Regions from separate parts of the Homo sapiens genome. Here regions 1, 3, 4 and 5 are each linked to region 2. Evidence: fine-mapped expression QTL. A gene starts in region 2. Each other region holds a variant in brackets. All regions are shown on one strand. Distances are from middle to middle. Region 1 has its middle 82 kb from the start of NBPF8. Region 2 holds the start of SEC22B (SEC22 homolog B, vesicle trafficking protein). Region 3 has its middle 32 kb from the start of NOTCH2. Region 4 holds the start of RNVU1-4 (RNA, variant U1 small nuclear 4). Region 5 has its middle 39 kb from the start of SEC22B.

What was found. PIP is the estimated chance that this variant, and not a neighbour inherited with it, causes the effect.
Region 1: its variant is fine-mapped to the expression of SEC22B in whole blood (TOPMed, PIP above 0.99).
Region 3: its variant is fine-mapped to the expression of SEC22B in whole blood (INTERVAL, PIP above 0.99).
Region 4: its variant is fine-mapped to the expression of SEC22B in whole blood (TOPMed, PIP above 0.99).
Region 5: its variant is fine-mapped to the expression of SEC22B in whole blood (Lepik 2017, PIP 0.95).

What each region holds. Positions count from the first base shown.
Region 1 is chr1:120,494,067-120,500,688 of GRCh38, forward strand. It overlaps the pseudogene PDE4DIPP2. Among named protein-coding and RNA genes, the nearest start is that of NBPF8, 82 kb to the left of the region's middle. The variant G/A (reference allele first, on the strand shown) is at 2,498.
Region 2 is chr1:120,173,365-120,179,986 of GRCh38, forward strand. It overlaps SEC22B (SEC22 homolog B, vesicle trafficking protein), which reads right to left and starts at 3,156. Exons shown (of 5, transcript NM_004892.6): 1 at 2,943-3,156. The coding sequence starts at 3,017. RefSeq lists enhancers at 2,278-2,843, 2,778-3,147, 2,844-3,409, 3,188-3,317.
Region 3 is chr1:120,098,198-120,104,819 of GRCh38, forward strand. No RefSeq gene overlaps it. Among named protein-coding and RNA genes, the nearest start is that of NOTCH2, 32 kb to the left of the region's middle. The variant G/A (reference allele first, on the strand shown) is at 2,581.
Region 4 is chr1:120,941,485-120,948,106 of GRCh38, forward strand. The region is part of intron 2 of LINC00623 (long intergenic non-protein coding RNA 623); the gene reads left to right. It overlaps RNVU1-4 (RNA, variant U1 small nuclear 4), which reads left to right and starts at 1,116; the gene lies at 1,116-1,279. RefSeq lists enhancers at 340-1,054, 803-1,112, 1,044-1,747. The variant C/T (reference allele first, on the strand shown) is at 2,906.
Region 5 is chr1:120,133,790-120,140,411 of GRCh38, forward strand. No RefSeq gene overlaps it. Among named protein-coding and RNA genes, the nearest start is that of SEC22B, 39 kb to the right of the region's middle. The variant T/TA (reference allele first, on the strand shown) is at 3,216.

The DNA of each region.
Region 1 (6,622 bases), 320 kb after region 2:
ATAGGAGATAGAGAAGAAAGGGCCTGGCTGCTATACATGGAAGAGGAAGTCTCAGCTGTTGAGAGATGCAAAGCATGAAAAAAACAAAAATGGTGGGAGAAGGAGTTAACATCAAAGGAAGAAAGGGCACAGGGAAAGAGTGCACCTAAAGCTTCAGGTGTGATTACCTCTGTGCCTTGGGCTTCAAGGCCAGGGAAGCTGCACGCTGATCTCACAAGAGACACTATCTTTTTGACCAGCAGCTTGCCCTCCGCAATCTGCTGTCTTAGGGCACTGTAGTCATCAATGTGGCCAATGACATGGCGGCCATGCTTATTGGCAAAGGAGCCATCAGTAGCATCACCCTCTAGCTTGGGAGGGGTCTTCATTACTGGAGAAGTATCCAAACCCAAGCCTGAAAAAGAAAATGACAACACAACTGAATCTTCTGTTATTCATAATGATATCCTCAGTTTGCTCCAACTAAAAAAGAGGTAGGGAACAAGAAAAGGACGAGGCCGGGAACAAGAAAGGAAGCCTGGGAATGTACAAGGGTGGGGCAAAGTCCATAGAGATCTTCTGGCTTCTATATTTTTATAATCTTTCTTACATTATCTCTTAATGATAAATTTGCCAGGAGACAATTTTTTCCTTATTGGCAAATGAAATAGGATGAATCATAATAAATAATAAGTTTCTGAGTAGAGAAGACACAGACAAGGAAGTCAAGCTGGATACAGACAGCATTTTCAAGAATAGAGAGATTATGGTGCAATGAAGCAAAAACAGCAGTAGGAAAACTACAGGAAGATGAACAATGGCAAGAAAGGCAGCCACAGAAGGTGCAGGGAGTAGGGCTAAAGGCCTTGGGGCATGCAGAGAAAACTCTCTAAATACAGATAATATGTTTAGAGACAACAAAAGGTTGTTTGCATTAATCACTTTCCATCATCAGTCCCTGGGCCCTTTAGTTGCCATATTTACCATTTGCTCTGTTGATTATGGGCGTTTCTGAGCCAGGAGTAGAGGAAGCAGAGCTGGGGAAGACCAGAGCTGGGGAATTCATACCAACATCCCGGACTGGAGGGGACACAGCTGAATCTAGGGGGTAAAGGCAACCACAGTTTTCAGGAGCCCTGGAACACACTGCACATGAAGCACATGCACACCTAGCTGTCCCCACTGAGACCTAAGGTGGCAGGACTCTCCTCTTACAGAATTATCCATACCCCACAAGCCAAAGCAAAAGCAAAAGCCTATGAGTCACTGAGTTCAGAATGTTTCCATTCTTCAGAACAAAAAGATATTCCTGTAATTGAGGGGTGTTCCATGAGAACGTAACTTCTAGTTTGAAAAATTATTAGGTGTATTTTTATAAACCGAGTCTTAAGTATAATTTGTGTGTGGTATCTAATATGATGCCCTGTAACTAAATGTAATATGTATAAATATACATAGTACAGATTAAAATCTAGAATCAAAGAATCAAGGAATGAATGGATTCATGGGGGACTCAACATTCTAGTCATCATTCTGATGAGGTAATACTGAAAAAAATTGACTTGTATGAGAAGAACGGAGACAGAAGGCTTGGTGGGTTAACATTGTCTTGCTGGAGACTAAAAAGCAACCCTATGGTGGAGGAATTGGAAAATATCACAAAGAAGGTAGAAAAGGTCCTGCTCAGGCAAGTGTGGCCCAGTGCCTGCTTTCCAGCTCAGGCCTCCGGGGTGCTAGAGAAAGAGGGGCAGGGACTGCATCAGTGGGGCTGAGTCTTGGCTGCTGTATGGGAAGCCAGTGAGAGAAGAAGGCCTGGTTAGAAGGAAGAGTTGGAGACATAACTGAACACCACAACCATCAGGGCAGCCCAGAGGAGGGCAAGATGTCCAACTAATGTAAGCTGAGCAGTTCCTGGTGGTCAGGCGGTTTGCTTGGTGGACCACATGTGTTTTTTTATTGAATTGCCAAAACAGCATAATCATGTTATTGTCACCTTCATTTGACAAATAAGGTTACTGTCAGATAAATGAGAATCTACAAGAACCACAGAAAAACAAAGATTAACATGACCCAGAAATAGCTGGCAGGAGAGTTTGAAAGCTCAGCTTTAGAGAAACTGAACAGAAGTGGTTCCTGATTTGAATAAAATTGAAGGTATGGCCATGGAGGTGAGTGGAGATGGTGTACTAAACGGTGTATCAAAAGGAGAAAAGGACAGAGGAAGTAGAAATTGAATGATTTAAGAGACTAGGGGGACACCATTGACATTTCAATGAAAACTGGGAGAAGTGAGATTGATAGAGGATATTGAGAAGAGAAGGGGGACCTGGTCAAACACGCCTATCTGAAAAGGCAGGCAAGGGGTGGGGTAGAGAAAGCGAATGATGGCCACCCGAAATAAATCACCCACCATCCAGGACTTCCCCAGAGCCCTGTTTCCTTAGGGGCAGGAACATTTTACCACACACTGAGTTCCCCACCTGTGAGGGAAAGGGGGACTAGAGAATCTGGGAAGGTC[G/A]GCAATACTGAGACAGGGCACAATGAACTGGAAGGAACACAGACTGAAAATCACAACATCTGGTTCTGATTCTGGCTTTGTCTATAACTTCTCTAAACCCCTGCTTGTCTGTTAATATCTCAGGACCTAAGTTTTCTTATGTGAAATACAGAGATAGCAAAACCTGCTTTACTTCAGATGAAATTATATATGTGAAAACACTTGGCTAAAACTAAAGCACCAAGCAAATCCAAGAAAAAGATATGAACATATACAGCTGCTAATTATTGAGTAATTCTTAGTGTGCCAAGCACTTGTAAATGATTTCATTTAATGCTCAAAATCATATAAGGTACATATGATCATTATCCTCATCTTAAATATAAGGAAACTAAAGCTTAAACCTCTGAGACTTTAGACACCTTGCCCAAATCAAACGACCTCTAAGTGGTAAACTCAGAATCTGGAGCCCAGTCTGACCTAAATCCCACGCTTTCACTCAGGCTGCTAGACTAGAGCATCTCTGATTTCAACCTGACCCTAAGGAGCATGGACCAGGCAGATTACACCTTCTGCCGCAGAACTTCCTGGTGATCTCCCCACTGGCCAAGGGCTTTCTAAGTCCCTTTTCCTTCCTACCTTGGAGGAGCAGCTGCTTGTTTCCAGGGTCAGTGCTGGCTGGGAAGTTCTGGTTAATGGAGGAGGGGCTGAGGCTGGCTTTGCCAGCACCGCTCTCCAGCTGCTGTTGCAGCTGCAGTCGCAGACAATTGTTCCCCTGAATGCTCTGCTCCAGCTGCCCTCTCAGAGCTCGTACCTCTGCCACCAGGTGGCTCAGGTCACTGCTCAAAGGGATTTGGTGACAGGCATCCAGGCTGTAAGCTGAGAGAGAAGGAGTCTGGTAACATTCACCCAAGTATTTCCAAGCACTTGTCAGAACCCTCCTCTGTGACATTCTTTTCTGCCAAGGACCCCACTATCATCTGAGTCTCATGCAACCCATCTGTGATGGAGGTGTCACCATTTCTGTGTGTGGCCTGGGGATGGCACTGAGCTGGCACACATCCAGTCTGAAACTTCCCTGCGGCTTAAGTTACACACATGCACCTATAGAGCATTTGATTGGCAGATGAAGATAAGTCCATATTTCATCTCCATAGTAACCTTAGTCCTGTAGGCTAAAGTATAGGATACTCCAAGGTAGAAGGTCAGCACTGAGCTAGAGAAGGGTAGGGGATGAGGAAGAAAGAGATTTCATAGTCCTCACTCTCAAAAATGAAAGAGAAGGAGGAGGTCTTTTGGTAGCATGTGAGAATGTGAGTTGGGCACCTTAGACGAGGGATTATAACTGAGTTTTTCAATTTCTCTCTCTCTCTTTCTCTCTCTCTCTATATATGTGTGTGTGTGTGTACATATATATACACCTACATATAGTGTGTTTATATATGTGTGTTTATATACATACTATATATAGGTGTATATATGTACACATATACATGTACACATATACATGTACATATATATGTACACACATATACATGTACATATATATGTACACACATATACATGTACATATATATGTACACACATATACATGTACATATATATGTACACACATATACATGTACATATATATGTACACACATATACATGTACATATATATGTACACACATATACATGTACATATATATGTACACACATATACATGTACATATATATGTACACACATATACATGTACATATGTATGTACACACATATACATGTACATATGTATGTACACACATATACATGTACATATGTATGTACACACATATACATGTACATATGTATGTACACACATATACATGTACATATGTATGTACACACATATACATGTACATATGTATGTACACACATATACATGTACATATGTATGTACACACATATACATGTACATATGTATGTACACACATATACATGTACATATGTATGTACACACATATACATGTACATATGTATGTACACACATATACATGTACATATGTATGTACACACATATACATGTACATATGTATGTACACACATATACATGTACATATGTATGTACACACATATACATGTACATATATATGTACACACATATACATGTACATATATATGACATGTACACACATATATATACATACACATATATATAAATATATATATGTATGTATATTTACCTCCATTCACCACATGGCTATTTCTTTGTACTGGGGATGAAGAGATCTAAGAAATATTCTACGAGGCTACAATCCCTTATCTGAAAACCTTAAGGCCAAATGTATTTCGAAAGGTAAAATTTGTTTTAGTTTTTAGCAAGGCAACAGGGTGCATATATCATATATAACATGTACCCAGTTGCATGTGAGCCACAATCCTTTATCAAACATATAACTATTTCCGCAATGAGCTATGTGAATATTCTAAATAGATAAATAAAGACTTATGAATATCCTCATGTCAGATCATCTAGATTTTGTCACTAAATGAGTATTTGAAAAATTTAATTTGGAAATCTTACTGGATTTTGAAATTACAGATAAGAGATTATGGAGCTTTAGTGGTTGTAGCTTTGAAATGAGTCCTAAAAGGCAGGGAGAAAAGCATGAAAGGAAAGGGAGCTCAGGATGAACCAATTTTAGGGACTTTGGTAAATAATCTACTCTTGAATTTTGCCCAAAGTTTTATGATGTTCCTCTCTCTCTCAACCCAACTTCTCACTAAATTTTGCTTATTTTTTAAGAGATGTTTTAAAATCTATCTATACCCTTTCATCTTCCCAATAGCACCTTATATTAGACTGTCATCTCTTAATGTGCCAGAATATCACTAGACCCATCCAATACGTTTCCCAGATTCTAATGTCTCCCAATTCCAGGACATCCCCTAAGACTTAGCATCCTAAAGTTCTGTTTTCATCATATGCTTATCTTCTTTGAAAAAGAACAGACTTAGTTTCATTATCTACTATACAGAATGTCAACTTTTACCCTGACCTGTGAGCTTTCAAGATTTGGTGACTCTGCTCCACCATCCTGACTTCTCACTCCAACCTCAAGCTTCTCCTGTGGTCAGGCTGGTCCCACTGACCCAACACTCACCATGACTGTGTACTTAAATTATTCTCCCAGCCTGGTGAGCCCCTTCTATTTCTTCAGGTTCCAGTTCACCTTCTCTTTAGAAAATCAGGAAACTAAATCAGGATTTATGATAATTCGAATCTAACTTCCACTGCCCTTCACTCTTTGTTTAGCCTTCTGGAGGGACATAAAATACATGAGTTCTTTTTCACCTGACACTTCTTCAAATATCCGAAGCCAGTTCTCATGTCCTCAAGATCTTTTGAAAGCCTACATTTCTTTAGTTTCTTTGACTAGTTGGAGATTTCTGGTCCACACCATTGTGCGCCCTGTCTTCATTATGTTCCCTAGTGTGTCAACGCCCTTTTCAAAGATGGTGCCCCTTAATCTAACAATATTTTAGACATGGTCTCCACAGGCGAACATCACACTTACACTACTGTAGTTCCAGTTTGAGCTGGCATTTCTAGCAACCTTTGTCCTACACCTTACTTGTGTGAACATGTTTCTACCAAACCCCAAACCCTCATGTCCATGAATGGCTGCCTGTCCTATATTTCTACCCTCAACCTATATTTCTACCACTGATATTTTTAATCGAGCTCAGGATTTTGCTTTTTATCTTTGCTAAATTTCACGACATTGATGTCGTCCTCTGTTCCAGCCTGCTGTGACTTATTCACATTATGTTTTGAATACCCTTCTCCATTTAAAGAATGAAGAAATATATCAAAATTCTCAAATATTAGATTATTATTTCAGCAGGCAGCAAAGTCTTCAATAAATGTCCTTAATATTTAAATCCAGGATTGAAATTTAGGTCCTATTAGTGGTATTTCTATAAGGTTTTTTTGTTTTTGTTTTTGTGTCTTTTAATTTTCTCCTGTGGGCAGGCTGGTCCCCACTGACTCAACACTCACCATGACTTTGTACTTAAGCTATTCGCCCAGCCTGGTAAGCCCCTGTATTTCTTCAAATTCCAGTTCACCTTCTCTTTAGAAAATCAGGAAACTAAATCAGGATTTATGAAAATTACATGAAAGGGC
Region 2 (6,622 bases):
TGCCATAAAAGGAATGAGGAAAAAAGATAAACAGGGTATCAGTTAGGGAGTCCACATTTGAGAAGAAAAGCTCATCTCTCTTCCTGCCCTAAGTCTAAATTTTCAGTTAAACACAGAGGAAACACCCTGTATAAAATACTCTGTCTACATTATTTTGTAAATTTTACTCTCTATTGTATTATCTGAATAACTGTCCATCTTCGGTAATATGGCAGCTTGTACAGGCACCTAGTAAATACCTAAAATATGATATCTATTATCAGTGTAAATACTGAAAGTACACTGATAAGAAAACAAAAACATACAAAAATGAAAATACATTGAATTATCTGGCCTGGACAATTAAGGTGATTAAATATAAAACTGTTTGGTTGAGATATCTGTTTATTAAAAAGTTATTCCTGGACTCCTAAGAGGTAAGACATCATTAAAAGGCCTTAGAACAAGGCAGTAAAGTACAGTGGTTAGGCACTAAAGTACAGTGGTTATTAAGTTTTTGTCTGAGTCGACAAAAACTTAATAAAAACCACTGGGTCTCAATTGGGGTGATTTTGCCCCCATGAGACATTTAGCAATGTCTAGAAATATTTTTGTCGTCATACAAACAAACAAAGTGGGGAAGGGTAGTGGTACTACTGGCATCTAGAGGGTAGAGGCCAGGAATATTGCTGGACCTCCTACACAATATACAGAACAGTCCCCAAGAACAAATAATTATCCATCCCCAAATGTCAACAGTGCCAAGGGGAAAAACCCTGATGAAAAATTTCATTATGCCACTCATTAGCTGTGAATTTAGGCAAGTGATCTATCCTCTCTAAGCCTCAGAGCTTCCTTATCTATTATTGGAGATTTTAATAGTACCTGTTCTAATATGGTAGTATGAGGATTAAATAAAAAAATGAACTTAATAGGCTTAGCACAGTGTTTGGTATGTAGTAGGCGCTTTTATAAATGTTCTGTATACTATTAAAATAGTAAAAGTAAGCCTAAGATTCAGATCTTTACAGACATTAAAAGTTTAGGCAAACTTTATTATTCAAAGTCAAAATTCCTAAAGGAAAATACTATGGCACTACAATCACAAAAATATTTGTGTGTAAAATTTCTTTCCTTGTCAATTAAACAAAGCATCCCATCTTGATAAACCAATATGAAACCAATACCAAATTTATAATTAAAAAACAATAAATCAATTAATTTTTCAATAAAGTATCATGGCAGAGAGTAGGGGCCACTAATATTAAGTAGACTTTCAAGTTCACTTTGTATTCTTTGCTAACACTGGAATTCAATGCAATAATTTAAAAATTGACCAGATTCCATCCCCCCTACCCCCAACACACAGCCACCCACTGTAGGAAAACTATTTTTTAGTCAAACTACACATCCTTCAAGGATATTCCCCTGCACTATCTACTTTGTTCAAATCATATTCCTAGGTTCATTTGAACAATTACACTCCTTCTGCAGGATGGTCCTAGAGTATTCCTGAAAAACATTTCACATTAGCAAATCGGGGTATGTTAAATTGTTCACGGTTTATTTCAAAGATTAGACTTTGTTTTTATGTAATGAATAGAATATATTTCACTTAGCATGACCTGCAACTTTATTATCTGTATCACCACTCTCCTAAAAGTGAAAGTAACTATATTTCCAAATCAAACCTAAAAAGGCATATAACCAAATAGAATAATAGTTCCTTACTACTGGATCCTACTGTTACCTTAGTGTCATACCTTCTGGGAAGACTTTCCTGATTTCCTAAAACCAACTTAGATATATTTTCCATGTTCAAGCACAAAACCCTCTTCCTTCTCCTTAGCAGTTAAACTACATTTTAATAGTTTGTTGGTTATCTGATTTTTCCACTAGACTGTAAGCTCCACAAAGGTAGAGACTGTGTACTCTAACTCCCTGCATTAACACTATGCCTGGCACATTTGATGTGCTCAGTAAAAATTTTTTGCATTAATATATGAATGAAAAGTCCAACAGAAGAAATGTGCAAACTATTTTTTCAATATCTCATCTTTTTTTAAGGCTCAAGGTTTTACTTAGACTGTATGGAAAAGTAAAATAAAATTGATCACTTTAAACAAATTATATAAATTCCATTCTCAGCTTTGTCTTCAGAACCTCCCAAGCTTGCTCCAGAAACTTGTCTTACTTCAGAAATTTCCACTGTGTTTCTAAAACACAAAACATCTTTCTTTTAAGACATCTGGAGTTAGTGCTGTTTTTAATCAATTCAGTATACTTTTGAGCACCTACTAGCATAAAGCAGCTATTGTAAAAGGTATGGATAACAAAGAGATGATTAAGACCCGTCGTTTGCCCGCTAGGAAACTCAAGTTATTGAAAGACAAAGAAAAAAATAAGTTACAATGTATTGCAGGAATGTGGTACGGCGTATTGGAGAAGGTGGGAACTGGGGATAATCCTGAAAGAATGTGATGTACTGAAATTTAACAGGTGCTTTTATGTGGCAATATTACCTCACCCACTTTCAAAAGATGTCAGCAAGCTAGGTCAAGGATCAGGTGCCACGTTATAGACTTGAAGAACTTGGCTGATTTTTTCCCAGGATTTATCCATCAGCAGTCCTATTAGCAGCAGAAAATTAGAAATCCTGAATTTTAACAAAGTCCCTAAAGAGTCAAAGAACACTGGGTGATCACAATCAACCAAAGCTACCACTTCTCCAGAGCGTTTTTCTAAAGAGAAACAGCTAACACAAAAAACTTAACTCCTCCTTCAGGAAAGATTTCCTCTTCGCCGGTAGTCTCTCCTACACCAAAAGATAAAAGCGCACTTCAGAGAGGTCGGGAGTGCCCGGGAAGTCACAAAGGTCTCCCGGTCCTAGGAAGGAATCCGATGCTGAGGGCAAAGCGCGCTGACAGAGACTTGGGGTCGCGGGTCGTGAGTAAGCAGCTCACCTGTTCGTCCTCCTGCATCGAGGCGGCCAGCGGGAGCCCGTCCGCCACTCGGGCGATCATTGTTAGCAACACCATCTTCACAAACTACAGGGATCCAACACTGGCCCGGAAGGCCCTTGGCGCCGTCCTCACTTCCTCCGCCGCGACAACAGTTATACCCTATGTCTCAGTTACCGGAGATCCAGCTGCTTGCGTCTCCGCTTCCCGCTGAGGTGGCCGGAAACAGCGCAAGAGCTTTCCACTACCGGTCCCCAGAATTGGCTTCCCTCAGAGAACCACAACTATCAGAACACTGGTTCCGCGATCTGCCTTCCACCTTCTTAACTTCCAAGGTCTGGCTGGGTTTTCTGAATTTGAGGCTTCGAATAAGCCTCGCCCTTTGAGCGGCCATTGCACCCAAGCTGAATCAGAATTTTCTAGTTCCTGAAACTAAGTCTTGGGAGAGAGCTGGGAAGGAGGGTGGGAGTTAATGGGTAATCCCCATTAACCACTAACCGTTAACCATGAAGGGTATGTAAAAAAAGGAAAACCCTGAAAATTAGGCTATTTTCATATTTATTTTTTTCTGTTTTCTATGTCATATATTCTATAAAATGTTCTATATTTATATATTTCTAGACAAAGATTTTTGTCTATTTTTGCTTGTTTGTTTATGCGGTATCCCCACCAGGCTCCTTAAACAGTTTATGGTAAGAAGTCAATAAATATGTGTTGTATGTGTGAATAAATGAACAAGTACAGGACATCTTGTACCACCTAGGTCAGTCACCTACAAAAAGCTAGGATCAGGCCGGGCGCGGTGGCTCACGCCTGTAATCCAAGCACTATGGGAGGCCGAGGCGGGCGGATCACGAGGTCAGGAGATCGAGACCATCCTGGCTAACATGGTGAAACCCCGTCTCTACTAAAAAAACACAAAAAAATTAGCCGGGCGCGGTGGCGGACGCCTGTGGTCCCAGCTACTCACTCGGGAGGCTGAGGCAGAATGGCGTGAACCCGGGAGGCGGAGCTTGCAGTGAACCGAGGTTGCGTCACTGTACTCCAGCTTGGGCAACAGAGCGACACTCTGTCTCAAAAAAAAAAAATAAATAAATAAATAAATAAAATAAAAACTAGGATCTCTGATATATCTAGGTGTTCCCATCTCTTTGTTTTTTGGTGTCCCCATCTCTAAAGTGGGGATATGATCGGCCTTTCAGGGTTTTAATGAATATTAGATGAGAAAATCTAGGTGCAAGGCTTTCAAAAGCTAAAAAAAGAATTATACAAATGCTTTTATTTATCATTGCTTAATAATGACTACTCTTTACTAAGTGCTTACAGTTAGTTCTCGCATTAATAGAAACACTGTTAAGTATGTTCTAGATATTAGTTAAGCAACCCAGTAAGCTTGTTTAGTATTATATCTCCACTTTGTAGTTGAGAGGAAAGCCTCAGAGAGCTAGCAGTGATGGGAACAGGATTTGAGCTCAGGTTCAACTTCAAATCCTGATGTGATTCTGTCTTAACTTGTACCCATTAATTAAAGAGCTCAGGCTTTTGTTACCTTTTATATTGGCCTTCAGGATTAGAAGAAAACCAATATTATTTTTGTGTGGCATTTTCTTTATTAAAAAGATTCTTATTTCAATAGCTTTTGGGTTACAAGTGGGTTTTTGTTACATAGATGAATTATATAGTGGTGAAAGCTGAGATTTTAGTGCACCCATCACCTGAGTTGCGTACATTTTACTTAATAAGTAGTTTTTTAACCCTAGGTCCCTTCCCACCCTCCGCCTTCTAAGTCTCTAAAGTCCATTATATCACTCTGTATACCTTTGTGTACTCATAGCTTAGCTCACACTTAAGTGAGAACATACGGTTTTTGGTTTTCCACTCCTGAGTTACTTCACTTAGAATAATGGCCTCCAGCTCCATCCAAGTTACTGCAAAAGACATTATTTCACTCCTTTTTATGGCTGGGTAGTATTCCATGGTGTGTGTGTGTGTGTGTGTGTGTGTGTGTATCACATTTTCTTTATCCACTCATTAGTTGACAGGCACTTAGGTTGGTTCCACATCTTTGCAATTGTGAATTATGCTGCTAAGAAAAGTAATATTATTTAATGATAGACTTTTGAGACCAAAACCCAATAAGACCTAGTGATTGACTCCACATGAAAGATGAAGGACTACAATAAATAAGACAAAAAAAATTGTGCTATTAACAGAGACAGAAAGTGGAATGGAAGTGAATCCTTGTGTATATGGGAGTCTAAGTTGGTAGAATCATAGTACCTTACATTTAAAATAGCCCATAGATATAAGTTGTTCTAATTTCCCTTCCTTCCACTCAACAAGGACATGCCTTCTCCACAGCCTCAAATGATGGTCATTTGAGTAATGGGGAATTAATGCTACAAATATTTTAACTAAGGATACAGACTGCCATGTTGATTAGAGAAGCAGAGAGAGAAGAATGCAGGTGTGTGCCGAGAAGCAAATTCGGAGCAAGAATCCACATCTTTTTTCAGTTCCTGACTCTAGGCTCCTCCCAAGGCCCATACACATTCCTGCCATTGGGTTCTATCAAACACTATTGCTTCTTTATAACAAATTCCCTCTTTATCCTGCTTAGGCTACTTTGAGTTAGTTTGTTACTTAAAAACCAAAACACACACACACACACACACACACACACACACGCAAACTAATAAAAGCATGGAGTCACCCTGGAGCAATTATTTCTTGGAACAACAACATTCATACTCACACCTCTTACTTTTATCCTTTGTAAACACACTAGATGACTCTGGCACCCTTCGAACACATTGATTCCAGGAAAAGGATAGTGATCTTAGGCTGCTAATAATTTCAGCCATCAGGAGAAAACTAGAGTTGTCTTGAAACTGCCCACTATTCAGACCTTGGGAGCTCTGGCATCTGAATTCCTTTTCCTTCTGACTTGATCAGCTTCATCTCATTCACATCCAAGTGTTGTCTTTGAGCTGCTGCCCTTTGATTCTTGGAGCAATACAGTACTGTGTAATAATGGTTAACACTGTGATCAGTAAGTACATGGAAGGTTCTCAACTATTTTACATTTAATTAAACAAGAGTATCAACAAACATTTGTACCGAACTTTAAAATTTATAAAGCCCACATATGTCCTTTGCCCTAAATCTGACAACCACCTCTGAAATGGATAAAATTCTTGGAGTTTGTAAATGTTGTACTAGGAAAAAAAAAAAAAGTAAACATAAGCCTTGAACGTCATAGTTACAGCTGCCAGCAAATTCTTGAAACTTATCAAAGAAATCGTGAAATGCACATATCTAAACCAACTTATATTAAGCTGCCTAAACAGGATAAGACTTTCCATTACAGCAGTCACACAGTTGCAGAAATTTTACAAGTGAGATCAAACGAAGCAATAGTTAAAGGTTTGTGTCCATTCATTCTTAAACAATTCTATCGAGTGCCTAATTCTATACCAGACACTAAGCTAAGTAATGAGGACGAATAAAGAATAGTCCCAGCAACTTGTGGCCCGTATCTACCCCCAGACCAAACACTGTCACTTAGGAGGTCTGCAAGTAAACTGCAGCTCCTGTTTGAATTACATGATTATATACATGGAAAAAACATTTCTTCTGAGAAACTGTGCTCCTGGAAGGCAAAAGAACAGATAGCCACTGTA
Region 3 (6,622 bases), 75 kb before region 2:
ATGTGCTAGAAGCTACAAGGATTTGGTTTGTTTCTTTCTTAGTTTTCAGTTAGCCAATCTTTTCTGAAAGAAATTGAAGCCACCCTCCTCTTAGAAAAAAAATCCTTCTTTCTTCATTTTATTTTCATGGGCTGCTTCTAGGAGTATATTGAATTCTGCCTTCCATATTTCTAATCAGGCTTCACAGTTTCTTCCTTCTCTGTCCCTTTCTCTCTGTTCCTATTTCTGCCATATCAACTAAGGCTTTCCTTAGCTCTTGCTTTACCTATAGCAATACTACCTACTTTGTCTTCTTACTTACTACACCAGTTTATATTGGCTCTGATCGTTATTATCTATGGGGGCTGAGGCAGGTTGCTTTCACTCTGATCCTCAGTTTCCTCACCTGTAAAGTGGCCATATTAGAGTATGGACCTTGTAAGGGTGGTATAAATGTAAGCAAATATCCTTGGTTCTCCTGAGCTATAAATCCAAATGTGATCATGTTAATTAAAAATCTTAATAGTTCTTATCCTTCCCCAAATATTTATGAGAAATTCATGAAATGGATTAACTCAATAAATATTGAGCACTCTGTGTGAGTCACTGATGTGGGCTCTGGGGACACAACAATAAACAGACAGACCTGGACACTGCTTTCTTGGCATTTGCTTTTTGGGATAGGAAAAACGATGATTAAAAAAGAAGAAAAAGAAACAAAAATGACAAAACATGAGATGATGATAAGTGCTATGGAAAGAAAGTCGGGGTAGGCAGAGGGTAGGAAGGCAGAGGGGTTGCTCGGTTTTACATAAGGTGGTCAGGGAGGGCCTCATCGAGTAGGTGTTTTTGTACAAAGACATTTGGGTGTCATTGGTGGACAGATCTTACCTGTGTTCTTAAGCCAGTGTTGTCATCATGTGTATTGTTATAGTTAGCCAGACACCAAGATGCTGGCACTGACAGCACCACTGTGAGCTAAAAGTCCACAAACGGTGTCAGCGTGGAGCCCTGCACAGTTACCCTAGCCAATAATGCTTTTGAAAAACAGGAAGTAAGAGAGTTGACTTTTTCAGCATTAATGCTCAAGGTAAAGTGTTATGACTGAATTAACTGAAATCAACTACTATTTCCTTAACACAACTTGGATAAAAACCTTTTTCTGCAATCACAGCTGGCACTGTGGTGCCGGTTTTATGGGAAATTGAGGGCTATGATAGCCCCTGTGATGTCTGTCAGCATCCTCTTTCAAAGTGGGAAAAGAAAAGCTCTCTTCCTTAATATAACACTGAGTTACCAGTTACTGGGCGATAGGCCCTAGAGCATTAAAGAGTTTCATGGCTCTTTCCATGACTCAGAGGCCCTTCTTTGTTTTCTTCTGGGAAGACACATGCAAGGAAGCTGGGTTAGGCCCTTCCCTGTGACAGTCAGACTTACCATGACCTTCCAGGTCTAAAGCCCAGTCTTACCATTACAAACTCCTTCCTCAACCAACGGTGCTCTCTCCAGGGGCCCCACCATTCCTGCCAGCACTCTGCCTACCTCTGGAACTGTCTCCAGACATGCCCATGAATGCTGAAGACCCTACTGAGGCAAATATTTCCATTTTGCCCCCAGCAAACTTCTCAGCCTCCTTATAAATCAATGGATGCCAATCATTGCTTAAAGGGAAGAGACGTTGTCTAATTCTGCATCACAGCCATATCTGTCTGAATTCTGACCCATCTGGGACATTGTATTGCACAAGAAATAGAAAAATAATTCATGAAGTTCCTAGCATAATTCTTCTGTTTAGTAGGTATTCAAAAATTGGTAACTATTGTAATTACTTACGTAGTAGTTTAATGGGCAATTGTAAACATATTGTTTATAATTTTTGTTTTTTTCAAAATGTTTTACAAAATCATGTGTTATATAATAAGAAGCAAATTCTTTCAAAAAAAATAAAACACACACACACACACCAAACTCTTGACACATAGCTGTTTTCTTCCCCTCCTTTTCATCTAAACTTCTCAGAAAAGTGTCTTGCACTCACTATTTCCACTTCCTCAACTTGCTTCTATCTAGCTTCTGCCCCGATCATTCCTCTAAAAATTGATCTCACTGAAGCCACCAGCTGCTTTTGAATGTTCTTCCCTCAGGAGTATGTTGGTGGGTCTGGGAAGGGAAGGCACCCTCAGGTAAATAATAACCCAGAGCAGAGTGGATTGAGTAGAAGGGAGAGGACAAGGATACAAGAGGTGAGGCAATGTCATCCAAGTTGAAAGAATGGTGCAGAACCAAAGTTGGATCCAAACACTCACCTTGTCCAAGAGCCAGGTATTCCAGTTAGAAGTCTGCTCACCTGAGCAGAAGAGAGAGTCCAGAAACAAGCCAACTCCAAACAGGTAATAAACTGAAAAACCAAAGTAGTCCCAGAAGGAAGAGTGCAAGGAGTTGGAAGGCCAAGAGGAATTCCACATTCAGCAACTTACCAGCTGCATTTGGCTGGGCCTTCCTGGGAATATGTGATGAAACGTCCAGATCTACAATGCTATCTCTTTCAGAAATGAGAGATGGGCTCCCAGGGCACTCCTATACTGGATATGTCAACACAGT[G/A]CCTGCCACACCCAACTTCCTCTTTGAGATGAAAGTGCCCCACCCACAGCCCCCTGCTTTGAGAAGCAGAGGTAGGTTGTTCTTTGCCCAGGGATGGCTCCTGATTGGACCAATGATTGGCCCTTGACATTAGGGGCTGCCTTCCCAAAAACCAGGGCTTGAATGGAAAAGGTAAGTTTGATCAATCAGATTCTCTCCTTCTGGGATTTGAATTGGGAAACATGGATAGAAAGAAGCAGTTAGCCATGGGAGCTGAAGCTGAAAGGATGGCATACAATGGAGTGGAGCCATGGAGGATTATAGCAAACCAAAACTATGAGGAAGCAGAACCATGTGATAAGAAGGCAGAATTTATGAATAAGCAGCAATTCTGAGGTAGAGAAAATACATGAAAAGTAAACAGAATTTTTTAGTTGGAATAAGACAGCAAGAAGCAAACCTGCAAAGAGTCGCAAGAAATGAGAAGTGGTGCACAATTGTCATTAAGATCCTATCATCTGGCTCAACTAAGAGCCAGTTTCAGATCACCCGGATTTACTAAGGCTCCTGTGCTCTTCATCAGATTTACCCCAGCTTTCCAGGTTTCCATGCTGGTATTTCTTGGGCTCCTACTATGAGCTAGGCACAGTTCTAGGTGTTTGGGATCTAAGGGCAAATGAAACAGGAAAATACTTAAACCCCTCATAACTTGCGGCAGGGTCTCTGTTTCAAAGGGCCAAGTTAAAATAACTACTCTTGCCTTCACCATTTCCCATGGTCCAGTTGGTGTCATTATGTTGTCATTATGAGTCTACACCCACTTTGGCATGCAGTTCATATATATCACCTCCACTGCTAGGGTGGGTAACTGGAGAATCAGGAAAAGAGAAAATAAAAAACAGAAGTTGGGAGATGGGACATGAAGGAAGTCAGATGATGTATGATAATGGCAGCAGAGTGGCTGAATGCCCAGGCTTTAAATTAACTTGCATTCAAAATTTTGCTCTATCACTTATTCATTAAGCGGCTTTTTTGGCAGGTCAGTTTTCTCAGCTGTGAGCTAGAGATAAAATAGCATTCTCCTCATTGCATTTTTTGAGAATTAAGTGAGAAAATATATGCAGAGCATTTAGCATAGTACTTGGCCCATAGTAAATGCTTGATAAATGGTAACTATTTTTGCTGATGCTATTATTATCAGCAATCCTCTAGTTTTCCCATTAGTTGGATAGAATGAATGGGCTGGCGGGGAATTAGATGGCATCCTATGTCAAACCTCTCTGAAGGCTGATGCCAGCCATAACATAGTAGGCTCATTAAAGCTCCTTCTAGTTGGTGCATTCCTTCCCGGGTACTGTCTAGCTGCAGGAATATCAATAATACCAAGAAGAGGGCCAGGCACGGTGGCTCACGCCTGTAATCCCAGCACTTTGGGAGGCCGAGGCGGGCGGATCATGAGGTCAGGAGATCGAGACCATCCTGGCTAACACAGTGAAACCCCGTCTCTACTAAAAATACAAAAAATTAGCCAGCCATGGTGGCGGGCGCCTGTAGTCCCAGCTACTCGGGAGGCTGAGGCAGGAGAATGGCGTGAACCCGGGAGGCGGAGCTTGCAGTGAGTCAAGAGATCGCGCCACTGCACTCCAGCCTGGGCCAAAGTGCGAGACTCCGTCTCAAAAAATAAAAAAATAAAAAACAATAATAATAAAACCAAGAAGAGGTGTAAAAAAAACACTAAGGACAAAAACCGTTGTATGCAAAAAAAACAGTTCTGGAGGGCAGGCAATAATAATTAGTGAAAGCAAAGTGTGTAGCAGTGATATTAGCCAGAGCAGTCAGTTGTGTGGGGGAGGCAAAAAAGCACATTTATTTCTTAAGCACTACTTTTGTCACCTGTCTAGGGGTGGTGGGTATGTGGATGTAGACCTGATAGGCCCAAACTGAGGCATAGCTGAGGGCTGTGGTTGGAAAGCAGTGCTTTGAGAGACCATGAAAGTAGAAGCCCTCTTTTACCTATCAGGGTATAAATGACTGGAATGGGTGGAGGAGCAATGCAGGGAGGGAAGAGGGCAGAGTCAGGGAAGAGGTCAAGAGGGGCAGACCTCCCAATGACTTGGGCGGCTGAGGTGGGAGGATAACCTGAGCCCATGAGTTTGAGTTCAGCCTGGGCAACATAGCAAGACCCTGTCTCTATAACAATCAATCAATCAATCAATCCAGGAAGCGGGCAGACAACAAATAGAAGTCCCAAAACTGGAGTTTCAGATGCGAGTGTGGATCAGAAGGAGTCACCGCGGCTCTAGAGGAACCCTGAGGTATCTTTGCTTTGGGTCCAGGTGCTTTTGTGGTAGTGTACCAGACCATATCACCTCAGAGAGGGCCAGTGGCTGTGCTGAGGCTGCATTCTGGCCTTCCTAGCAGGGATGAGCACTGCCTTACTCCTATAAAGACCTTCGTGGCATTTAACATCAATCCATATTGCCCCAAGAGGCCCTGTATCAGGATTAAGACCATGCATAAATGTCTAAAATACATCATTTGAGCAGAATGATTGTGAAATACTCAAGCCATAGTCTTCCAGAGTGAGTCTCTCTGTTACCTCTTGTACTCAGGCTTTCAGGATAGAGAATCTGGTCTGTGATTCTGAGTGCTGGGCACACAGCTGATGGAGCACCCAAGCACAGATAAGGTGAGCTGCCTTGCATAGCATGAGCTGAGCTTTCAGGCTATGGCAGACTGAAGTCCCTATCACACATTGGACCCTCTAGGGCTTGAAAACATGCTTGACCACAGGCCCTTCCCCTTTCCACGCAGGGATAATGAAGTGTGGCATAAAGCTTCTCCTGGGTCAGGGTGGCCCACTCCACAGTGTTGGCAGCACCAGTCTCAACAGTGTGATGCTGAATGAAGCTAGGTTCCAGCTGTGTAGAGCTGGCATGCAGGTGCAGAGGACACACTGTGGAGCTGAGTTGCTTGCATTCATTTCTATTCTTAGTAAATTTTTTACCTGTATGGCTTTATAGGAGTTACTTTATCACTCCATGTTTCAGTTTCCTCATCCGCAAAACAGCAATAATAATAGCATATAGCTCATAGGGTTATCATGAGTATTAAATTAGTTAATATAGGCAAGCCCTTTCAGCAGTGCCTGGCACATCGTCAGTGCTTGCTTGTGCTGTACTGGAGCAGAGGTGCAGCGAGTCTTGACTTGCCAAACATAGTGTCAACCTCAGCACATCAGGAAACTTCCTTCTCTATTTTAGGAGGTCATTACTAGGGCAGTTGCACAGAAAAAGACAAAATGGTGTTAGACATCTCTTGAAAATGTCTAGGTAACCTCAGTGACCAGGGTGTCTCTCACTCCAGAATCACAGATAACTGGCTACACTGAACTTGGTTCAGAAATGTCACACATTTCTGTGCTGTTTTGAAGGTGCTGATGTTTCAGGTAACTCAGAACTGTTGGGGCCAGAGTATTGTATGAAGCATAGCTAGTCAGGTTGCATGTGGATGTTTCAGGATATATTAGGACATTTTCCAAGAAGAGCAAAAAGCATCCCCTTGAAAGTCCTGCAGGATACTGATCATGCTGCTGCCATAGGTCAAGAGGCATTGTGTTCTCTGCAAACTCTCTGTCATCCAAATGCAACGATGGAAGGCAGACAAGGTGCTAGGCACTCAGAAGATCTAATTTTATGGTCCTTCTGAGCTGGCCCAGGAGAGAGGGAACCAGACAGTATTAGGATCCCAGTAATCCTAGCAGAGGGCCCAGTCATCTGCTTTTCTTCCTCACAAAGTTCTCCACTGCCTTCTTGGGAGAGATAGGGCCCCAGTGGATTTCAAGGCCTATGAATTCCTACCGAGTCTCAAGTTATGGGTGTTGTGGTGGCCACAGGGAGGCCAGATAAAATTCAGAACACCAATTAAATTTGAATTTCAAATAAATGATGAATAATGTCTTAATATATATCTATCCCAAATATTGTGTGGCATATACTTATACCAAATATGTATTTGTTATCTGAAGTTCAAATTTAACTGGGTATCCTGTATTTTCATCTTC
Region 4 (6,622 bases), 770 kb after region 2:
ACGCATTGAAGGCCACTGCACTCCACCCTGGGCGACAAGAGGTGACTGTGTCTCAAAAAAACCAAAAACACTCCCCCCTCACCCCAAAGCATTAGACATCAAGGCTGGCAGGGAAGTCTGTTCTCTTGAAAGTTCAATATCAATTCAATACTTTAAATTCACTGTAGTTTCAATCCATTGGTATGGAAAGTGTTTTGAATTATTGTACTGATTTTTTTCTATCCTCTTTCTGATACGCATGCTAATCATATGGACCTTGGACGTCTATCTTCCTGAACTTTTCTCTCCTGTTTTTACATTCTTATTTTGGTTTGTGGGAAATATTCTTGATATTATCTTCAACTTAATTTTTGTTCTTGCTTCTACTATTTTAGTTTAATTTCCAAGTATTTTGATATTGAACTTTCAAGAGAACAGACATCCCTGCCAGCCTTGACGTCTAATGCTTTGGGGTGAGGGGGGAGTGTTTTTGGTTTTTTCGAGACACAGTCACCTCCTGTCGCCCAGGGTGGAGTGCAGTGGCCTTCAATGCGTTTTAACGAAGATATGCACACAGTGCCACATCACAAAGATAACCAAGTTTGAAAGGAATCGGTTTCCTTTGTAATCCTAAACGTTCTAGTCTGCTCATTGAAAGCCATTATTTGAAGAAGGGTGCACGGGCTTCCAGCTGGCCGCCAAATGGGACTTCCACAGGACACAGATTAAATACTCGCTTCATTGCGGGAGACGAGGGGCGGGGACAGGAGAGAAAGAAGGGACAGGCATAAGTCACTTCTCCCGCCGGCTCCGACAGCTGGTTGCTCCGCTGAGGGGCGTTGGGTGAGGCGGAAGAGCAGACGGGGATCCAGAAGGCGTTGTCGGTGACATCACGGAGAGGGCGATTTCTATGTAGATGAGGCAGCGCAGGGGCTGCTGCTTCGCCACCTGCTGCTTCGCCACGAAAGAGTTCCCGTGCCGTGGGAGTAAGTCTGGGACCTCTGGTCGGACCGGAGAGTCGCAGCTGTGTGTTAGGGCTAGGATGGCTCCTGGATGCGCGTGACGCAAGTGACCTTGCGTGTAAAGGGTGAGGCATATGAGGCTGCGGCGGGGCGGAGGGGCGTGAGCTTATACTTATGTTTATCTGGCAGAAGAAATGTTATGATCACGAAGGTGGTTTTTCCAGAGCAAGGCTTAGCAGTTTTACTGTGGATGTGCTGACCCCTGTGATTTCCCCGAATGTGGGAATCTTGATTACATAATTTGTGGCAGTGGGGAACTGTGTCTGTGTTTTTCCCTGGGTTGTTGTCGTTTTAAAAGTGGATTTTGTTTGCTGTGGAAGCATATACAAGGCGTTAGTATAAACTAATAAACAGGTCTTTGTTCCCATCTGTAACTTACTTTCAAAGTAAAGATTTTGCCAGGTAGTGGTTGGTTCTCACGCTTGTAATCTCAGTAGTCTGTGAGATGCATTGATAACTTTATGTTAATACCGCTCGAGCTCTGGAGTTTGATGTCAGTGTGGTCAAATATGGTGGACCCGTCTCTACTAATCTCTTAACTTTTTTTTTTGTTCTATAGAAATAAAACTAAGCTTTTCTTTTCCCTACGGGAGCCCATTGTAAACATTTATTAACAGCAAACAGTCCACTGGAGTGCATGGCGGGATCCCGGCTTACTGCAACCTCTGCCTCCTGCCTTCAAGCTATTCTCCTGCCTCAGCCAGAGAATACTCGATCTCCTAAGTAACTGAGATTACAAGCGCAGGCCACTAAAAAATTAGGCCCGGCTAATTTTTTGAATTTTTGGTAGAGACAGGGTTTTACCATGTTGGCCAGGCTGGTCTTAAACTCCTGACCTCAAGTTATCCGCCCGCCTCGGCCACCCAAAATGTTGGGATTACAGGCCTGAGCCACCGCGCCTGGCCTGTTTACAGACTTTACAGACAGATTTTGTTTACAAGCTTTACACGCACGGTTCAGTTGCAGTTAGTGTATATTATGCTGGGCCCAAGACAAATGTCTTTTTTTTTTTTTCCCAGTGTGGCCCAAGGAACCCAAAATTTAGACAACCCTGCTCTAGAGGGTTTGATTCATGTTTCCACTGGGTTATGCTTATTGCCTGTAATTCCATTTGATATTTTCCAAATCTGATTTTTTGAAAAGCGTTTTCCTGAAGCACCCTAAAGCTTTCCTAATAATATGGGAACTTAAACCAGATTGGATGTAACAAAACCCAGCTGGGATCCTGCAACTTCTAACCTTAATGTTAGATCAAGAAGCAAAACACCCACCAGTCCAAGGGTCAGGGAAGATGAAGATCATGCCTGAGCTGTAACAACGCCCTTCCCAGTATACAAAAGCGTGTAACAGCCACTTGAATTCTATCTTCCAAGTGTCTCCTGTTGCCCAGGCTAACCTAGAGCTATCTAAAGATGGCAAATCTGGGAAATGTGCATTCAGCTTGGCAAAACTGATACATTACAAATCCACCACAGTCCACTTCTTCTCAAAGTGGCATCAATGTGCACCTTCCTCCTCCTCCTTCTCTTTTCCTCCTCTTCCTCATCCTCTTCTTTCTCTTCTTCTTCCTCCTTTTTCCTCCTTGTAAAGCCATACTTAAGGTTCAAATAAAGACAATAGGAAAATCATACTTTTTCTCATTCAGTGAAAATATGCCAACCCTTTCCCCAACAGGATAAAGTCTTTTATTTGTCTTTGAATGATGTTCACTCCTTTTTTAGCTAGATCACATTCCATATTTGCTATCCTGTAACCTAAATATTGAGATTTCTAAAAGTTAACTATTAATGAATATGATAGCGAGGATGATGGAAGATGAGAATTCTCAAGAAAAGTATTGGTTAATATATAACCAAATGTATTCATCTCAAAATAATGAAGAAATACTCCTAACTATTACAAGT[C/T]CTCATTTCTGCAACTGTCACTGGCCCTAGCTGGTATTTGTAACTATCTTCACATCTTGCTCTCACAGCCATTTCCTTTGGGCCTGGGCCAGTGGACGTGAGCGTGGGAAAGACCAGAACCCGCGGTGCTCCCCACCGCACTATCCTCGGGTCTCCAGAGGTGGGATACACCGGGCAGGGGCCTTTGCTGGATTCTAAACCGGCTCTGGGGATACAAGAACAGCTGCCTTTGAGAAACAGTTCAAGTCTCTATATTCCAGACTTCCTAGTAGGACTAAACGCTTAATGTTCATCCAGGAATTCATGGTTCTCCTAAAACCCTGCGGTGGAATGCCTTCCTTCACTGAGCATTTATTGGGCACCTACTAGGTGCTAGGGTGGCTCTGGGCGAAGGGCTGCAGCCTGTGCAAACTCCAGGTCCCTTTCCTGTGGATCCCACCTCTGAGGGCCCGAGGGGGACGCAGTGAGGACACCACGGGTTCTGGTCCTTCCCACGCGCGCGTCCGCTGGCCCAGGCCTGGCGGAAATGACTGTGAGCGCAAGGTGTGAGCGGGGCTAAGAATGGGAAAGCGAGTGGCTTTCGCCGGAGAAGCTGCAGTTGTCACCTGTAGAGGGGCCAGCGACTTTTGAGAGGGTGAAGAGCAGGCGGGGGAAGCAGTGAAGAGCAGACGGTGAGGAGCAGGTGGCCCTTTGGCCGTTGGAGTCCCCCAGCTGACTCTGCCCGGGTAGAACGTCCAAAGTGCCCAAAGACTCGACTCTTGGCTTCATTGTCTCCCGTATTCTGGGTTTCTGGAGTGCGCGGGATTGGACAGGCATCAAATATATGAGATTATCTGCAGCCAGAGGTTAAAAAGCCATTTCTGGTATCAGCAAATGAGTTTAAGACACAAGCCATTAGAGTCTCTGTGGCGCAATCGGTTAGCGCGTTTGACTGTTAACTGAAAGGTTGGTGGTGCAAGCCCATCCAGGGATGGCACCTTTTGCTTAGGCAAGATTCACAGTTTCTGTTTAAAGACTTTAATCCTGGGAATCCTCCGGACCTCTATTAGCTTTGAATCAGATGCCAAAATATGCTGCGTGAAGGCTCAAGTTCCATGGAAGTTCCTAAAAACAGGAATATTTCAGCAAAAGTAATTTTTCAATAGAGCCTGAGCCTGGGGCTTCAGAGCTTACGCCAGAGCCACTGCACCTATTTCATCACCTCTTGAAGCTGGGTTTTTACAATTGCACATTCCTGGAAATCCAAAACTCCCAATAATTGAAAACAAGAAAACCCCAGTCTTCACTTGTAGTGAAGCCTCAATTTCTGGGTTGAAATCTTGGTTCATTCATGACGTGACTTTTAAAACGTTACTGGATTTTCTGTACCTCAATTTCTTCGTCTATAAAAAAGAGCAGCCGGGCACGGTGGCTCACGCCTGTAATCCCAGCACTTTGAGAGGCCCAGGCAGGTGGATCACCTGAGGTCAGGAGTTCGAGACCAGCCTGGCCAGCGTGGTGAAACTCCGTCTTTAATAAAAATATAAAAATTAGTCAGGCATGGTGGCGGGCGCCTGTACTCCCAGCTACTTGGGAAGCTGAGGCAGGAGAATCACTTGAACCCGGGAGGCAGAGGTTGCAGTGAGCCGAGATCACGCCATTGCACTCCAGCCTGGGCAAAAGAACGAGACTCCTTCTCAAAAAATAAAAATAAATAAAAAATAAAAAAGAAAGAAAGAAAGAAATTTTTCCTGGCACATTTCTATATGTTCCATTCTGGATGACTTGCTCTTCAGGCTTATCCCACAGCTGTTATCATAATATCTCTCTTTACTGCACCATCTTGGGATTTCCATCGCCTCTCTCTTGTTAGATCCCCTGCTTCATGGATCTCAAGGGGGTTCATTCCTCACTCACTTCTTCCTTTTGATGATGCATATCCTCCAAAACCTCCTATAAAGTGGTTACCTTAGAAATAAACTTTTTGAGACACTGCATGTCTGAAAATGTCTTTTATACCCATAAAATTAATTGATATTTTACTAGATAGAGATACAAAAAGATAGGTGGAAATAATTTCTCTCTGAGATTTTTGAAGGCACTGCTTTTTTTGTGTGTGACAGAGTCTCGCCTCGCTCTGTCGCCCAGGCTGGAGTGCGGTGGTGGGATCTTGGCTCACTTTCAATCTCCACCTCCCAGGTTCAAGCGATTCTCCTGCCTCAGCCTCCCCAGTAGCTGGGACTACAGGTGCCTGCCACCATGTCCGGCTAATTTTTTTATTTTTAGTAGAGATGGGGTTTCACCATGTTGGCCAAGCTGGTTTTGAGAGCGACCACTCCTCATATTGTCTTACACTTAATTTCTTGTTTGCTGAAAAAGTGGAGGTTGAAAGAATGGGCAGAAGTGAAAATCACGCTCAGACAACTGGGTGCCACATTTCGGGCCTGGTTGTTAAAATTCAACCGCTGACCTCACCGATTGTGCTGTCTATAAATTCCAGACATTGTATAAAAAAGCATTATGAAATTCCCTTTTCTGTCCTGTTTCATTCTGATTACCAGTACATGCAGCCCCCAGTCACGTACCCCTTGCTTGCTCAGTTGATCATGACCCCCCCAACACAGCCCCTTTAGAGTTGTGGGCCCTTAAAAGGGACAAGAATTACTTATTTGGGGAGCTCGGTTTCTAGGATGTGAGTCTACCGATGGTCCCAGCTGAAAAAAGCTCTTACATTCCACAATCGGGTGTCTGAGGGATTTTGTCTATGACTCCTGCTACAGTTTCAAACTCCTGACCTCAAGTGATCCGCCTCCCTTGGCTTTGCAAAGTGCTGGGATTACAGGCCTGAGCCATGGCTCCCGGCCCTTGTTGTTTACTGTTTTCCATAGTCATTTCTGAGAAAGAAAAAGGTAAGCCTTTTCTGCTCTGAGCTAGAGCTGGTCTGACAAACACCTAGGCCATGGTGTTCTATGGTTAAAACGAAAAATTTCACAACACCAATATCAGACAAAGTTACCCTCTCACTAAACTGAAAGAAATACTATTTCACAATCATATTTGAACATAAAAAGAACACTGTTCAAACCATAATATGATCAAACATCCCAGCTACTAATAGTGACGGTTAATGATTTTATTTTTTATTTTTTTGTGATGGAGTCTTGCTCTGTCACCAGGCTGGAGTGCAGTGGCACAATCTCAGCTCACTGCAACCTCTGCCTCCTGGGTTCAAGCAATTCTCCTGCCTCAACCTTCCGAGTAGCTGAGACTACAGGCACCTGCCACCACACCCAGCTAATTTTTGTATTTTTAGTAGAGACTGGGTTTCACCATATTGGCCAGGCTGGTCTGGAACTCCTGACCTTGTGATCCACCCCCGCCCCGCTCAGCTTCCCAAAGTGTTGGGATTATAGGCGTGAGCCACTGCACCAGGCCAGTTTTTTTTTTTTTTTTTTTTTGAGACAGTCTCTGTTGCCCAGGCTGGAGTGCAGGGGCGTCATCTCAGCTCACTGCAACCTCCACCTCCTGCGTTCAAGTGATTCTCTTCCCTCAGCCTCTCAAGTAGCTGGGATTACAGGCATGCCCAACCATACTTGGCTAACTTTTGTATTGACTGTTGATTCTTTACCAATTATGTGTTTAGTCTTGCAACCACTTCTCCCACTTTCTAGATAAAAATACCGAGATTCCCAAAGGAAGAATTGCCCCACAATTTCCCCATAGTGTTTGCTGTCTCCT
Region 5 (6,622 bases), 40 kb before region 2:
CAAAGACATTGGCTTTTATACTAAATGAGAAGGAGCCATGGAAACTTTTGAGTAGTGGATGACACATTTAGGTTTTCTTTTTTAAATTTTAAATACATTTTTATTTCAATAACTTTAAGGGTATAAGTGGTGTTTGGTTACATGGATGAACTGTATAGTGGTGAAGTCTGATATTTTAGTACCCCTGTCACCCTAGTAGTATACATTGTACCCAATATGCAGTTTTTTATCCCTCACCTTCCTCCCAACCTTCCCCTGTCTGAATCTCAAATGTCCATTATACCACTTTGTAAGCCTTTGTGTACCCATAACTTAACTCCCACTTATAAGTGAGAACATATGGCATTTGGTTTTCCATTCCTGAGTTATTTCACTTAAAATAATGGCCTCCAGCTCCATCCAAGTTGTGCAAGACATTATTTCATTCTTTTTTGTGGCTGAGTAGTATTCCATGGCATGTATATACCACATTTTCTTTATCCACTAATTGGTTGATGGGCTCTTAGGTTAGTTCTATACCTTTGCCATTGTCAATTGTGCTGCGATAAACATACATGTGCAGATATAATGATTTATTTTCCTTTTTGATATAATGACTTATTTTCCTTTGGGTAGATACCCAACAGTGGGATTGCTACTTTTAGTTCTTTGAGAAATCGTCATACTGTTTTCCATAGATGTTATATTAATTTACATTCCCACTAGCAGTGTATAAGTGTTCCCTTTTCACCACATCTGTGACAACATCTATTGCTTTTTGGATTTTTAACAATGGCCATTCTGGTTGGGGTAAAGTGGTATCTCATTGTGGCTTTGATTTGCATTTCCCTGATGTTCAGTGATGTTGAAATTTTTTCCATGTTTATTGGCCATTTGTGTATCTTCTTTTGAGAAGCATCTATTCATGTAAATTGCCCACTTTTTAATGGAATTATTTGTTTTTTTTTTCCTGCTGATTTGTTTGAGCTCCTTGTAGATCCTGGATATTAGTCCTTTCTTAGATGGATACTTGCAAATATCTTCTCCCATTCTGTGGGTTTTCTCTTTACTCTGATGATTATATATTTTGCCGCACAAAAGCCTTTCAGTTTAATCAGGTTCCGTTTATTTGTTTAAATTTTTGTTGCATTTGCTTTTGGGGTCTTAGTCATAATTTTTTGCCTAGGCCAAAGTCCAGAAGAATTTTTCCTATGTTTTCTTCTAGAATTGTTATGGTTTCAAGTCTTATATTTAAGTCTTTATTCCATCTTAGGGTGATTTTTGTATGTGGTGAGAGAGATGGATCCAGTTTCATTCTTCTATCCAGTGGCTCTCCAGTTTTCACAGAACCATTTACTAAATAGGGTGTCCTTTTCCCAATTTATGTTTTTGTATGCTTTGTTGAAGATCAGTTGGTTCTAAGTATCTAGCTTTACTTCCAGGTTCTCTAGTCTGTTCCACTGGTCTATGCATCTACTTTTATATCAGTACCATGCTGTTTCGATTACTATAACCTTGTAGTATAATTTGAAGTTGGGTAATGTGATGCCTCCAGATTTGTTCTTTTTGCTTAGGATTGCTTTGGCTATTTAGGCCCTTTTATGATTCCATATGAATTTTACATTTAAGTTTTTAAAGGACTGCTAAGAGTGCTGTGTTGAGAGTAGACTGGGGGTGGGGAACAAGGGTGAAAGCAGAAATGCCAGTTGGGAGGCCATTGCAATAATTCAGATGAGGAATAATAGTGACTTGATCCAGAGTAATACAGAATGCAGTGAAAAGTGATGCAATTCAGAGTATATTTTGACAGTGAAGCTAGTATTATAATCTGCCATCTTTACATGCCATGATGTCATAAAACATGCTTCTATTTTGGTGATTTAGGTTGTTCCTGTTTGCACTATTATAGGTAATATTTTCATTAACATTCCCACTCACACTTTTTGCCTGTCTTATTTCCTTACATAAATTCCCAGGAATTGGATCACTGAGTTGAAGATGTGATCATCCTTATGACTCTTGCTACAAGTTGTCATATTACTTAGTAGGTTCCACCCATAGTACCTTAGGGATCTTTAATTTGAAATGCTCCAGAATTCCTCCCCCATCCCCAGGATCTCTAACCCTCTCTCCCACTATGGTTTTCTTCTTTTTCTCTTTCTCCTCTCTCTCTTTTTGGGGAGCTTATAAAAGGGAAGGGTAACAAAAATGGACAAAAGTTAGGGCCGGCCACAGGGAGAGGTAAGAAAAGATACAGAGGAATTTCTTCATTTTTTTTCTGTCTTACAGCCCTGAGAAAGTCCCAGCTGCTTCCCTTAGTTGGATGAAAATCTTCTTCTGTAAGAATCAACAAGCTAACAATACTGCTTACTTAGAGACCTTTTTGTCTTCTGCGGAGATATCAATGGACTTTACAATTTCAATTATCTTTCATAATATTCCCTGGTGTTAGAACAAACTGCCTCCTCTGAACAAACATTCCTCTCACCAGGGTGGGAAGTTTACCAAACTTTGTGGCTCCTTTATTCCCCTCCTCCATCAGGTTGGTCCCCCTTTCAAATGACCCATCCCCCATCACCACAACTCAAAAATGTACCTGCTCAGTCCTCCTTATCCAATTTCATCCTAGGTTGGAAAGAAAATATTTTAATTGTTTCTTAGAAGTGAGGGTTTTTAATGAATTTTAGAATCAACTTGTCAATTTCTGCTGCTCTTAAAATGTATATGGAAATGCATGGGACTCATAAAAGCCAAAACAATGAAGAACAAAGTTGGTGGATTCACACTTCCCAATTTCAAAACTTACAACAAAACTACAGTAACAAAGACAGTGTGTTACTGACAGAAGGATAAACATACAGATCAATGGAACAGAATTGAGAATCACAAATAAACCCTAACAGTTACAATCAATTGATTTTCAACGAAAGAGCCAAGACAATTCAATGGGGGAAAAAAAATGGTCTTTTCAACAAGTGGTGCTGGGCAACTGGATATCCACATGCAAAAGAATTAATTTGGACCCCTAAGATTGTACACAATAATTAACTCAAAGTGAATCATAGGCCTAAATGTAGAAGCTAAAATATAAAACTTTTAGAAGAAAACTAACTCTTTTGACCTGAGTTAAGCAGTAAATCTTTGTGACTTTGAGTTAGGCAGTAATTTCTTTGATGCAACATCAAGAGCACAAATAATAAAAGAGAAAAAAGTTGATAAGTTGAACTTAATCAAAA[T/TA]AAAAAAACTTCTGTGCTTCAAAGGACACCAACAAGTGAAAGAACAGCCCCACAGAATCAGAGAGCATATTTGCAAATTATACTATCTGTTAAGGGACTAGAATATAAAAAACACAAATCAATAAGAAATGACAAGTGATCTAAGTTGGGAATGGGCAAAGGATTACAAGATATTTTTCAAGAGAAAAATATGCAAATAAGCACATGAAAAGTCACTAGGAAAATATAAATCAAAAGCACAATGAGATATCAATTTTCACCCACTAGAATGGCTATAATAATATAGGCAGAAAATAATAATTGTTGGTAAGGATGTGGAGAAATTGGAAAGCTCATACACTGCTAGTGGGAAAGTAAAATGGTGTAGCCACATTGGAAAAGTTTGACAGTCCCTCTAAATGCTAAAAATAGAGTTACCATATGACCCAGCAATTCTTTTATCTTGGGAATCTACCCAAAAGCAATGAAAACATATTTCCATACAAAAACTTGTGCACAAATGTTCACAGAAACTTTACTCACAATAACCAAAAAGTAGAAACAACCCATTTGTCATCAACTGATGAACAGATAAACAAAATGTGAAATATCCATACAATGAAATATTATTTGGCAATAAAAAGGAATGAGGTACAGATAGATGCCACAATATAGATGAACCTCAAAAACATTCTGCTAAGTGAAGGAAGCCAGTCACAAAAGACCACATATTATATGATCTCATTTATATAAAATGTCCAGAATAGGCAAATCCATAGAAACAGAAAGCAGATTAGTGTTTGTCTAGGACTAGAGGGAATAAAGGGGTGGGGTATGGGAGAATAGAATTGATGAGTGACTGCTAATGAATATAAGGTTTCTTTTGGAGATGATGAAAATATTCTAAAATTAATTATGGTGACGGGTGCACTGCTAAATATACTGAAAACCGTTGAATTGTACACTTTAAATGCGAATTTTATAGAATACAAATTATATCTCAATAAAACTGTTTTTAAAAAGTGGCTTCTTGTTCACTCTTGAAAAAAGACACCTGATTGTTTGGTTCAGCACCCTCAAAAAATTTGTTCATGTAATGCATGAAGGAGCATGCTATGGGATTGGCCTAAGAAGTTGCTAGTAATAAAATCTAGAGGTTGTGAAGGCCTGGGGAAGAGAAGGAAGGAGTAAGGGATGGAGAAGGGAAATAAGGAATAAGTGAAGGGATGCACCCAGAAATGAAGGCACAATCATCTCACTGTTGAAAAACCAAGGGCAAAACAGAAAGGAAATGGGGGAGTGGAATTTGCAGATATCTTTACTGCCAACTGTGTAGAACTGGGGCTGAGGTGGTTCAAAGCAAAGCTACAAAGTAAATATTAAGAGGATAAAAACTTCACTGATTTGTTGAATATATAAGGCTTTGTACAACTCACAGGGATTATTCGTTAAAAGTATACAAGCACTGTAGTCAGTTGGAAAAAGAATTATGATTCCTGTTGCCAAATTTGTATCAAAGCAAAATTATAATGTGATCCTACAATGAGCCAGAAAGAAACACAAAAAGTTTACTCCCCCCACCTACAAACAGAAACTGCTCCTTTATGTAACCTGAAGTTCATGTATATAGTCTTATTTGTACAGATCCTTGCATCTCAAGATGGATTAGTGTTTTTCAACATGGCAACTTTTAATTTTGTTTATTTATTTATTTTTTAATTTTAATTTTTTTTTTTTTGAGATGGAGTTTCACTCTTGTTGCCCAGGCTGGAGTGCAATGGCTCGATCTCGGCTCACTGCAACCTCTGCCTCCCGGGTTCGAGCAATTCTCCTGCCTCAGCTTCCCAAGTAGCTGGGATTACAGGGGCATGCCACCACGCCCAGTTAATTTTGTATTTTTCAGAGATGGGGTTTCACCATGTTGGTCAGGCTGGTCTTGAACTCCTAACCTCAAGTGATCCACCCGCCTCAGCCTCCCAAAGTGCTGGGATTATAGGCGTGAGCCACCACGCCCGACCTATTTATTTATTTTAAAAAATAATTTTAAATTTTATTTTAGACTCAGGAGTACATGTGCAGGTTTGTTACATGGGTATATGGCATAACACTGAGGTTTGGGGTGTGAATGATCCCCTCACCTAGATAATGAGCATAGTGACCAATAGGTAAGTATTTCAAGCTTTGTCCCCCTTCCTCCTTCCTGCCTCTAGTAGTCCCCAGTACCTATTGTTGTCATCTTTATGTCCATGAGTACCCAATGCTTAACTCCCACTTGTGAGATCTTACTAACACATTTGGTTTTCTGTTTCTGCCTTAATTCACTCAGGATAATGACCTCTAGCTCCATCCATGTTGCTACAAAGGATATGATTTCACTCATTTTTTTGACTGTGTATTATACCATGCTATGTATATACCCTATTTTAAAAAATCCAATCCACTGTTGATGAACACCTAGATTGATTCCATGTCTTTGCTATTGTGAATAGCGCTGTGATGAACATGTGAGTGCATGTGTCTTTTTGGTAGAATGGTTTATTTTCCTTTAGATATATACTCAGTAATGAAGATTGCTGGGTTGAATGGTAATTTTGTTTTAAGTTCTTTGAGAAATCACCAAACTACTTTTCCACAGTAGCTGAACTAATTTACATTCACACCGACAATAGATAAGCATTCCCTTTTCTTGGTAGCCTCGCCAGCAACTGTGGCTTTTGACTATTTGTTGTTTTTTTTTTGAGACAGAGTCTTGCTCTATCACCCAGACTCGAGTGCAATGGTGCGATCTTGGCTCAATGTAACCTCTGCCACCCGGGTTCAAGAAATTCTCCTGCCTCAGCCTCCTGAGTAGCTGGGATTACAGGCATGTGCCACCATACCCGGCTAATTTTTGTATTTTTAGCAGAAACAGGGTTCCACCATGTTGGCCAAGTTGGTCTCAGACTCCTGACCTTAGGTGATCCATCCTCCTCGGCCTCCCAAAGTGCTGGGATTACAGGTGTGAGGCACTGAGCCCGGCCTGACTTTTTAATAATAGCCATTCTGATTGGTGTGAGATGGTATCTCACCGTGGTTTTGATTTGCATTTCTCTAATGATTAGTGATGTTGAGTATTTTTCCACGTTTGTTGTCTGTTTGTATGACTTCTTTTGAAAAGTATCTGTTCATGTCCTTTTCCAACTCTTTAAATGTATTCTATTTATTTATTTATTTATTTATTTATTTTTGAGACGGAGTCTTACTTTGTCACCCAGGCTGGAACGCAGTGGCACCATCTCGGCTCACTATAGTCTCCACCTTCCGAGTTCAAGCGATTCTCCTGCCTCAACCTCCCGAGTATCTGGGATTACAAGTGTGCACCACCACACCTGGCTAATTTTTGTATTTTTAGTAGGGGAGGTTTCACCATCTTGGCCAGGCTGGTCTTG